2 separate regions of the Homo sapiens genome follow, and region 1 is linked to region 2. The links come from fine-mapping of genetic effects on gene expression. A gene starts in region 2. The other region holds a variant in brackets. All regions are shown on one strand. Distances are from middle to middle.

Region 1 (5,363 bases), 23 kb after region 2:
GAGAATTCGTCTCAAAAGAAAAGAAAAGAAAAGAAAAACTTAAAAATCGTTACTCTTACTTTTTGCTGAGAGAGCAACCTTAGCCAGTACCTTGTCCACCCAGGGCCTCAGTTTGCTGATCTGTAACATGGGATAATATTAATTCGTATCTTAGAGGATTATTAGTACTTTTGGAAGCAGCTTATAAAGAGCATTGCTGTGCATAATTTTTATTACGAGTTTTCTTTGGGGCCTTTAAGGACCAGTGGCTTTTTTCCCAGGTGTGACTCTTACCTCTTACACTCTCTCCTTATCTCACCCCAGACGCCAGCCCCCAGCAGGACAGCATCTTTTTCTGAGTCCAGGGCCGATGAGGTGGCGCCTGCAAAGAAGGCCAAGCCTGCCATGCCACAAGGTAACTCCCTGAGGCTTCAGGCATGTTGCAGGGAGTGGCCTTGCGGTACCCTCTGTATCTCTCTCCCCTTTCCCTTTCCCCCCTGGGCTGGCAGAGGCAGATGAACAGCGGTTTGGGTTTTGCAATGGGAGTGCACCTGGGACACGAGGATGGTATGACTTGAGCCTTCCCTGTGGGCGCTCCTGAGGCAGAGGACCCACGCCGTGCCTGGTCGCCTCAACTCCCCCTATTCTCTTCTACCCCTGGTTCTTCTTATGGGGGTGTGGACTGGGCAGGGAGGCTGTGGAGGAGATAGGGTTACAGAAATCCCAGGAAGTGGAAAGTTCTCTGAGACTCTTCTCCTGAGTGGAGGGCAGACACCGGGACCCCAGGACGGCAGAGCCAGCTCATACAACAGCAGTTCCCAGGCCACCCCCACCATCTTGGGGCCCTAACAGACATTCCCTCCTTTGAATCCCCAGCAAGAAAAGCCCCCGCCTGTCAGCCCATCTGTATTTCAACTAATTTTTCTCTCCGTGTAGATGTGATTCCTGCCGGCCAGCCCTTGCAGCCAGCTCTACATAAGTGGTGTTAGTTACCCCTGGGCTGGTATACCTGTGCAGCCTCTTCCTGGGACACACTTTGCTATGGCATTTTGGAAAATAGTGACACTGTCCCAAATCAGCATCCTTGTCCATGGCACGGGTCAACCCCATGCTGGCCAATCATCTCATAGTGTTTCATGGAGACAAAAAGGGATTGGCATTAAGAGGGTGGGACTGCGCCAGCTAGAGAGCCCAGAGTTCAAGTCATCCAGCTGTCCCTGCAGAGGGCCTGGGGGAGGCGCTGGTGTTGAGCACATCTGCCCAGCCTTTGTCCTCCTCCTGCCCCCTCTCTGCCCGTTTGGTCTTTGCTCTTTCTTGCTTCCATTCTGCTCATCGGTGCTTTCACCTCTTCTGCTGGCCTTACTCCGTTGTCCATTGCAGAACAGGAGAGGGATGATGAGGGCTTTAGCCCTGAAAGGCTTGTCCATGGGACCCTTCCCTGTTCCCACCCTCTCCCTCCAAAGCCTCCAGCCATCAGTGGGTCACTCAGTTGCCTTGGTCATTTTCTTTGACAGATTCAGTCCCAAGTCCAAGATCCCTGCAAGGTAGGATGCCCCCACCCTGCCCCCACTCCGCGTGTGGCTTTGTTAGCGGGTGACAGTTTTACTGTGTGCTCTGTTTCCCCCTCCCCTGGTGGGTTGCAGTGTCGTCTGGTCTATTTTCTGTCCCTGCCTTGATGTGGCCTGACCCCAAGTCCTAAGTCTTCGCTCTTCCTCCCCTCCTATCCGTGCTCAGTACGCGCCCCACTCAGTCCTCTCCTCACTGTGTGGCTGTTTCTGGCTCCAAGCTTGGGAAGGGGTAGAGATTTTGGAAGGAGCAAGAGCCAGACCCACAGCCCTGGAGAGTGTAGTGGTGTCAAGGAGAGAGTGTCGCCTGGGAAGGAGGGAGCCATCCAACTAAATGGGGAGTGGCAGAGAGTCGTGGGCGTCTGTCACTGCTGGGGTGCAGAAGGGGAGCCACAAGTCACCCCTGCTTCTCATTTACATCTCCTGATGTCATTTTCCCACCTTTCCTGCCTCGGCTTCACCACTGCCAGCTTCATCCTCAAGCTCCAGGGACCAGTTTATCTTTTTCTGGGGTTGTGGTGGAGGAACAAAAGAGGTGAAGAAGGAGGTAGACGGAAGCGCAGAAGGGTGTGCAGCGGATCTAGTGACTGGGTAATTGGAAGGGGTATGAGCTTTGTCTGGTGTATGAGGTCACATTTTACAGTGGATACTTCTGTGCATGCGCATTCACCCACCAGCCTAGCTGAGTAGATTAATTGGTTCATGGCATCAGAGCGTCCATTTAACTTTGACATTCACAGCCGTGGAGGCGGGGAAGTCTTTGTTGTCCCCTTGCTAAGGGGAGGGGAAGGAGTAATTGGCAGGGTCGATAACCAGCTGGAAAGGCCTGGAATGCAGCACTGTGGCCACCTGGCTTTAATCCTGATGTTTTTGCCTCTGGAAAAAGTTAAGAGCAGAGTGAGCCCAGTGTGGAAAGAACAGGGACCAGCCCTGGTTCTCCAGGAGCTCTCTGTGCTCTGAAGGGGAGGAGGGTTATGAGGAGGGGGGTTATCCTTGTTACTTTCTGGAGTGAGAGAAATAAAAGGAGGGTGTGTCAGGGAGAACAGATTATGGCTGAGCGAGCCCTCCCCTCAGCGAGGCCAGAGGAGGCCTGGTGTAGGGGGCATAGCCCCTGGCACAGAGGTTCTCT[C/G]TGGAGCCTCTCTGCTGCTGGTGGGCTGAGGATACACCCTTCAGCTTTGGTTTCTCTGTGCTTGAGGAAGGGCCACTTTACCTCCACCCTTCCTGCTGGAGATGCTGGTAGGTTGGTAGATTCCAGGCTTTGTCTTGATTTCTGTAGCTGGCAGGGTAGATAGATCAGAGGCATGTGCACGTGCGTCACCTGGCGGGGGTGACATGATGCAGGCTTCCCCTGAGGATGGCGGGTCATGAACTCACACTTATATTCTCCCTCCTCACTTTCACAGTTGAGCTGCATTTTAAGTGATTGTGTAATCCTGGCTCTGATGCTGGATGACCTCGGACCTCAATCATTTGGCATCTCTGGGCTTCAGTTTCCTAGGACTGGGAAGTGGGAGAACTGGATTAGGTGGCTCCCCTTGTTCTGTGATCTCATGTCTCAGCAGAACCCGGGGGGTCTAGGTGACAGTAAATCCCAGGTATTTGCAACATCAGGAACCTTCTGTCATGAGAAGCTGTAAGGCTGTGATGGAAGAGGCAGGCCTGTACAGGGATTTAATGAGACCATGAACTTGGTTAGCCAAGCCTGCTCTAGTACAGTAGGTTAATTAATACGAGATGCCACTGGGCTAGATGCATCATTCTTCCTAGGGGAGCTCAGAACCTCCCTGAGGGCTGCTTTCCTCCTCTTGGACTTGCAGGGACCCAGAGGGGAAAGTCAACTGCCTGAAGCGTGGTAAAAGTCCTTTCCCTTTAGGCTAAGGACTGCACTTTTTTCTTTTTTTTTTTAAATATACTTGCTGCATTAAAATTTTCTTTTTAAAATTTTTGTGGGTACATAGTAGGGGTGCATGAGATATTTTGGTACAGGCGTGCAATGCGTAATAATCGCATCATGGAAGGTTTTTCTTTGTTGTTTTTTTTTTTGAGGTGGGGTCTCACTATGCCGCGGTGGCTGGTTTCGAATTCCTGGGCTCAAGTGATCCTCCCATCTCAGTCTCCTAAGTAGCTAGGACTCAAGCACGCACCACTATGCCCACCTAGAGAACTGCACTTCTACCAGCTCCTTTTGTTCCCTTACCCTTTTTTTTTTTTTTTTTTTTTTTGAGACAGGGTCTCACTCTGTGGCCCAAGCTGGAGTGCAGTGGTGCGATCTTGGCTCGCCGCAACCTCTGCCTCCTTGGTTCAAGTGATTGTGTGTTGGTTTCCCAAGAAGCTGGGATTACAGGTGCATGCCACCACGCTAATTTTTTTTTTTTTTTTTTTGAGATGGAGTCCCGCTCTGTCACCTGGGCTGGAGTGCACTGGCACGATCTCGGCTCACTGCAACCTCTGCCTCCCGGGTTCGAGCGATTCTCCCTGCCTCAGCCTCCTGAGTAGCTGGGATTACAGGTGTCCACCCCACCACACCCAGCTAATTGTTGTATTTTTATTAGAGACAGCGTTTCACCGCGTTGGCCAGGCTGGTCTTGAACTCTTGAGCTCAAGTGATCCACTGGTCTCAGCCTCCCAAAGTGCTGGGATTACAGGCGTGAGCCACCACACCTGACCTGCGCCTTACCTCTTAAGTGCCCACTGGAGGGTCTGTCCAAGAGCACTGTCCTGAGCAGGAAAGAGCCACCTGGTAGAAGGGAGAAGGACAGGAAAAACAGGAGAGCAGGTTGAGGGCACTGGCCCTGTGTAACTAGCTTGCTGCTCCTGCCTTGTGCAGAGCCCTGGCCAGAACCACAGTTAGCGATAAGGCTGCTGTGTCCTCAGCCCCGGCTGCACAAACCTCTTCTTTGGACCTACACTGACCTAGAATTCATGCTGATTCAAACCCTGACTGGAGCTGGTTTTATGTCCAGATTTACAGGGTAATAAGCATTGTTGGAACATAAGTCCTGAACCCACCAAAATTGGGCGAGCTAAGCATTTTTTTCCAATGACTTTAAAAATAATTTGTTAAGACCTCATTTGCATATAAGCTGATGACACACCTTGCCTGGGAAATGAAGCAGGTCCTATAGGAATTATCCTGGGCATCTTTGACTGTGGGGCCCTTCTTTCTCCATTCTTTGCAGAGCTACTTACCAGCTAGCAGGCCCTCTTAGCTTGATTTGCTCTTTCTGCCACCTTCTTCCAGAAAAATCGAGGCACCTCCTCCCCAAGTTCTCAGAATTCTGTCCTCTTGACATTCCTTTACGGTTGTGATGAGGCATCACCCTGTGGACATGGGGCGTGGAGGGGTCTGTCAGGCAGCCCTGGCCCCTGCAGGTCTCCTGGGGGTATGTGTTCTGGGTGCACTCTCTGTGTCTTTGCCCACCAGGAAAGAGCACCACCCTCTTCAGCCGCCACACCAAGGCCATTGTGTGGGGCATGCAGACCCGGGCCGTGCAAGGCATGCTGGACTTTGACTATGTCTGCTCCCGAGACGAGCCCTCAGTGGCTGCCATGGTCTACCCTTTCACGTGAGTTACCCCATGGCGGGAAATATCTCCTTCCTCTGCTAAGACAAAGCTTGGGGCTGGGCACAGTGGCTCATGCCTGTAATCCTAGCGCTTTGGGAGGTCGAGGTGGGAGAACTGCTTGAGCCCAGGAGTTTGAGACCAGCCCTGGGCAACATAGGGAGACCCCCATCTCTACAGATAATTTAAAAATTAGCCGGATATGGTGGTGTGCACCTGTAGTCCCAGCTACTTGGGAGGGTGAGGCAGGAGGATT
Region 2 (5,363 bases):
ACGGAGTCTCACTCTGTGGCCCAGGCTGGAGTGCAATGGCACGATCTCTGCTCACTGCAACCTCTGCCTCCTGGGTTCAAGCAATTCTCCTGCCTCAGCCTCCCAGGTAGCTGAGATTACAGGCACCCGATACAGTGCCCAGCTAAATTTTTTTTTTTTTTTTGCTTTGAGATGGAGTTTTGGTCTTGTTGCCCCCGCTAGAGTGCACTGGTGCGATCTCGGCTCACTGCAACCTCCGCCTCCTGGGTTCAAGCGATTCTCCTGCCTCCGCCTCCTGGGTTCAAGCGATTCTCCTGCCTCCGCCTCCTGGGTTCAAGCGATTCTCCTGACTCAGCCTCCTGAGTAGCTGGGATTACAGGCACCTGCCACCACGCCCAGCTAATTTTTTGTATTTTTAGTAGAAACAGGGTTTCACCTGTTGGCCAGGCTGGTCTGGAACGCTTGACCTCGAACTCAGGTGATCTACCCACCTAGGCCTCCCAAATTGCTGGGATTACAGGCATGTGAATCACCACGCCCGGTCTTTTTATTTTTTGTAGAGATTTGATGGTGGTGGTGGGGGCTCTTACCATGTTACCCAGGCTGTACTTGAACTTCTGGGCTCTAGCAATCTGCCTGACTTGGCCTTCCAAAATTCTGGGATTACAGGCATGAGACAGCATGCCTTGCCTGGAGTGTATCTTTTTTTTTTTTTTTTTTTTTTTGAGATAGAATCCTTCTCTGTCACCCAGGTTGGAGTGCAGTGGTGCAATCTCACCTCACTGCAACCTCCACCTCCCGGGTTTAAGCGATTCTCATGCCTCAACCTCAAGAGTAGCTGGGATTTATAGGCGTGTGCCACCATGCCTGGCTAATTTTTGTATTTTTTGTAGAGATGGGGTTTTGCCTTGTTGGTCTTGAACTCCTGACCTCAAGTGATCCCCCACCTTGGCCTTCCAAAGTGCTGGGATTACAGGTGTGAGCCACCAAGACTGGCCACCCCCATTTTAGGACAAGAGAAGAGAGGTGATAAGGAACTGCTATTTCAAAAAGATGAATGGGAGGGAAGGGACCAGAAAGTGACATCATCAGGGAACACTTGATTCAGGCATGGGTAGCAAGTTCAGTTACCTTACTCCTGGCAGCAACAGGATTGGGGGAGGGGGTCTTGGAGAAGATTTTGTCTGCAAATGTCGCAACACTGTTGCAGTGTGAGTATGACCCAAAGTGCTTGGCAGGGGGACAGGCCTGCTGCTTCCCTGCATTCTGGGCTGACCTCTTCACCTGAGTCGGTCAGTGGACGCTTTTGGCCTCCTTCCTGGAGCTAGACAGCTGTTAGGCTTAGGGAGCAGCTCCGGACCTACAGGGTTGGGGTGCAGGTAGGGAGGGAGGCTGCAGCATGTCAGAGTGGTAAATACATGTCCTGATTTCCAGGACTGATTTCACATATTCTGCCCCACAAGTTCACCAGCACCTGTCAGATTGGATGTCCCAGTTTTTGGTTTGGAAAATTCGATCTGTCTCAGGTAATGGAGAAGGGGGAGACAGCAGTTCATTCATTCCAGTGTCTAAGCCTGTGGTTGGTGGGAACAAGAGACTGTCTGGGATGGCTCCAGCCCTTCGCTGGAATCTCGCATTGAATTCCTAGCTCCGCCCTGATCCGTGCTGAGGCGAGCAGGTGAGTGGGACGGACAGCGCTGTGCCTGCACCCTCCTAGCCCCACTTGCTTACCGCGGCCCCTGCCTTATCCCACACTGGGAAGTATGCTCTGTTAGCCTCGGCTCAGCCTTGCCTCATCGGCCCAGTGGGGAGAGTCCAGGGAGGAGAGAGGCTCCACGTGCTAAAGGAAAGCGGCCTGCCAGACACTGCTGCTTAAGGAGACTGTCTAAGCAATCGGATTCGGTGCGGCCGAGATGCAGACGTCCGTTTCTCCCAAGGGAAGGAGCAAGGGTACTCCAGGTCCCAAAGCTGCGTTACAGCCAGTTGGGCTAATCCTACCCGCCCCTCCCCCAACTCCCCGAGTGGCAATCTGTCCAGCCCCTCAAGCGATCAGGCCACAACCCCCAGCACCGCGCGTTCTCCTCCCAGCCTAGCCCGGCCCATCTCCCCACCCGGGGCCCCGCCCCGGCCCCGCAGGCTCCCAAGAGGCGGTGGATGGGCCAGCGGGACTACAAGTCCCAGCAGGCCCCGGGGCCCGCCCTCGTGGGGCGGAGCCAAGCCAGCAGCGAATTGGGAGGAGCCCTGGCGCTCAGGCTAGGGAACGCGTGTGGCCAATCGCGGGGCCGTTCTCGCCGCGAGCCGATGGGGGCGGGGAAAAGTCCGGCTGGGCCGGGACAAAAGCCGGATCCCGGGAAGCTACCGGCTGCTGGGGTGCTCCGGATTTTGCGGGGTTCGTCGGGCCTGTGGAAGAAGCGCCGCGCACGGACTTCGGCAGAGGTGAGCACGGGAGGCTGTTTTCGCTGGCTGGAGCCCGCTCGCCCTAGGAGCTTCCTGCCTCCGTCCCCCAACCCGGAACCGCCTTCCCCGACGCGGGCTCGGTGCCCACGCGCCCTGCTCGGAAGTTTTGAGGGTCTTAGCTTTAGGTTAGCCTTCGCCCGGGGTCCCGGCCGGTGGCCGCGTGTCGACGCCCCTCCCCTCCCCCCGCGCGACACACACATATTCCAGTTCCTGGGAGTTTGCATGGGGCTTGCCGCCATCCTTGCCTCTTCTGCCTCTGCCACATTGCATGGTCCCCCTCCTGGCGCGCCTCACCCCTCCCGGGCACAGCTATCGAGGCTCCTCGGGCTCATCGGGACGCCTTTTGGCTCCATCCGGGTTCCCCCATCGGATGCCGGGACGGGAAGTAGAGAAAGCGGTGGCGACTGGTCCCACTCCGATTCCTCACTGGCCGGGCTCAGGCCCTTCTTGGTTCCGTGGGTACAAAATTGAGCTCCACGCCCAAGTGGAGAGAATGAGCTATGCGCGCCTCCGGGGCGGGCCACGCGGGGCCAGGCTGCCCCAGGGTGCCCGAGGCCTCGCCTCGTCTCGCCGCGAGGACTGGAATCTCGCAGCAAGGACCCTCCTCGCACTGGAGGTATCGTCGAGTCCAGCCCCTAAGTGACAGATGGCCGGGGTGCCACCCCACCCTTGAGCTGACGCCAAGTCTGGCCGGGGAAAGGTCCTCAAGGGGCTGGAGGATGCTGCCGCCGCCCTCCTGTCGAGCCTGGCAATGGGCCAGTCCCAGCGCCTGCCGCGGTCTCCAACCTTGGCAGATACCGTGCAGTGCCGAGTTCTGCCGTTATGGGGTCCCTGGAGGTCTTCCTGGGAAGAGGATTTTGGAAGAGACGATAAGGAAAAGTGCACAGCACAGTTTGGCCAGCTAGCCTACTCCTCTCCACCCTTAACTTTCCTCTGTGTTTTCAGCTGGCTCAGCTGAACTAAAATGTGGGGTGAGGGACAGCTGGTAGGTCTCATTTGCCCAGATGGGTGATTTTCACCTCTTAGAAACCTTCCTAAACAGCTTGGGGGGCGGTAGTGGGAAGACCCCTCAGACACTGGACAGCTTATGGCTCCATCCCCGTTCTGACACTATGCCTGCCGCAGTAAGGGGCACTCACAGAATTCTGCCTCTCTAGAATTTACTCCAGGGATTGCCTGTCTTCTCAAAAAATAAATAAATAAATACCTACATACGTAAGTCCCAATCCTGCAGATACTAACCTTCAAATGAGTGTTTTTGTCTTTCCCAGAGGCACCCTTAGTAGCATCCCCAGTGATTCCCTTCCCCTGGCTGTGTCCCAGGGGCGTGTTCTGGGGAACAGGCTTCTTTCATTCAGCCTCCTGTGTGGGCTGCTTCTCTCAGTGTCTGCTAAAAGTGAACTCAATCCTGGGTCACTCACCCGTCTGCAGAAAGACTCCATTCAGCTCATAAGGCCCCTCCCTTAGAGAATGTGTGTATGTGTGTGTTTTCAGGTTCCTTGGCATGATTTCCCCCAAATGGTTTACACATTTAGCTGTTACCAAGTAACAGTTCCTGGAGTCCAAGCTCAGCCCAATCATCTGTTACTTGTTTGACAGCACATTCAGCTACTGGGGAGGCAGACTAAGACGTTCTGGGGAGCGGTCCCAAACCCAGATAGGTATTTGTAGGTATTTGCTGATTCCACTAGAGCAAATATTCTTTTTTTTTTTTTTTTTTTTTTGAGACAGAGTCTTGCTCTGTCGGCAGGCTGGAGTGCAGTGGTGGATCTCGGTTCACTGCAACCTCCGCCTCCTGGGTTCTAGCGATTCTCCTGCCTCAGCCTCCCCAGTAGCTACAGGTGTGCACCACCACGCCCGGCTAATTTTTGTATTTTTAGTAGAAACAGGGTTTCACCATATTGGCCAGGCTGGTCTCAAACTCCTGACCTCGTGATTTGCCCTCCTTGGCCTCCCGAAGTGCTGGGATTACAGGCGCAAGCCACCGTGCCTGGCCGCAAATGTTCTTAACTGGTGGTCAGTCTGTGGGCCATCGGATCATTGTCACAGGTGAGCACCTTGAAACAATATGCACAATTGGATTTGTGTACCTTTTTCTGGGGTTTTTTTCAGTCTCAGAAGAGTCTGAGGCCTCAAAGAGGTTAAGAGCCACTGCCTTAGAGAGACTTTAAGACCTCACTGAAGGCCGGGCGTGGTGGCTCATGCCTGTAAATCCCAGCACTTTGGGAGGCTGAGGTGGGTGGATCACGAGGTCAGGAGTTCGAGACCAGCCTGACCAACATGGTGAAACCCCGCCTCTACTAAAAATACAAAAAAAATTAGATGGGCGTGGTGGCGTGCATCTGTAATCCCAGCTACTCAGGAGGCTGCGGCAGGAGAATCACTTGAACCTGGGAGGCTGAGGTTGCAGTGAGCCGAGATCACTCCACTGCACGCCAGCCTGGGCGACAGAGCCAGAGTCCTTCTCAAAAAAAAAAAAACAAAACAAAACAAAAAAACAGAAGACCTCACTGAACCACTAAAGTTGCGATTTATCTCTACTGAGTCCACTCCCTGGGTTTGTGAGCCATTTGCCTTCTCTTTATTGGTGAATTTGCAGAGGCCTTATTTTTATTATGTTGTATACATTCCTTGTCTCAACCTCCCGTCTCTAAGCCAGAATGCTCTAGTGGCAAATCTCTTGTTTTCTATCCTGTATTATCCCATTGTGTCTTCTCTCCTATCCCCCTTCCAAAGACCCTATGGAGATGGGCTCTTGGACCTGAAATTTGATCTGGGTCTCAAGAAAACTGTGATTTCTCAGCTGCAGGGGTCCATTTTTTCTCCCTTGTCCTTTCCAAAGTTGGGTCTTGTGTCTGTTTTGGAGGTGCCAGGTTCAGGGGACTGTTTTACTGGGAGTCTCAGACTTCTTTCTTCTAGAGAGGCAT

Direction of the effects. Positions count from the first base shown, and alleles are read on the strand shown. Sizes are in standard deviations (SD) of each study's normalised expression.
With allele C in place of G in region 1, the expression in tibial nerve of the gene that starts at base 2,344 in region 2 is lower (small effect, 0.17 SD a copy in GTEx).

Evidence for each region. PIP is the estimated chance that this variant, and not a neighbour inherited with it, causes the effect. A credible set is the group of variants that fine-mapping cannot tell apart.
Region 1: its variant is the best candidate, but not a certain one, in a credible set for the expression of ACLY in tibial nerve (GTEx, PIP 0.50).

The regions. Positions count from the first base shown.
Region 1 is chr17:41,892,780-41,898,142 of GRCh38, reverse strand. It overlaps ACLY (ATP citrate lyase), which reads left to right. Exons shown (of 29, transcript NM_001096.3): 13 at 304-394; 14 at 1,494-1,523; 15 at 4,969-5,110. It overlaps LOC124904005 (a long non-coding RNA gene), which reads right to left and starts at 4,958. Exons shown (of 2, transcript XR_007065757.1): 1 at 2,755-4,958; 2 at 2,377-2,420. RefSeq lists a silencer at 4,400-4,600. The variant C/G (reference allele first, on the strand shown) is at 2,674.
Region 2 is chr17:41,915,932-41,921,294 of GRCh38, reverse strand. It overlaps ACLY (ATP citrate lyase), which reads left to right and starts at 2,344. Exons shown (of 29, transcript NM_001096.3): 1 at 2,344-2,415. RefSeq lists silencers at 1,962-2,221, 2,702-2,941.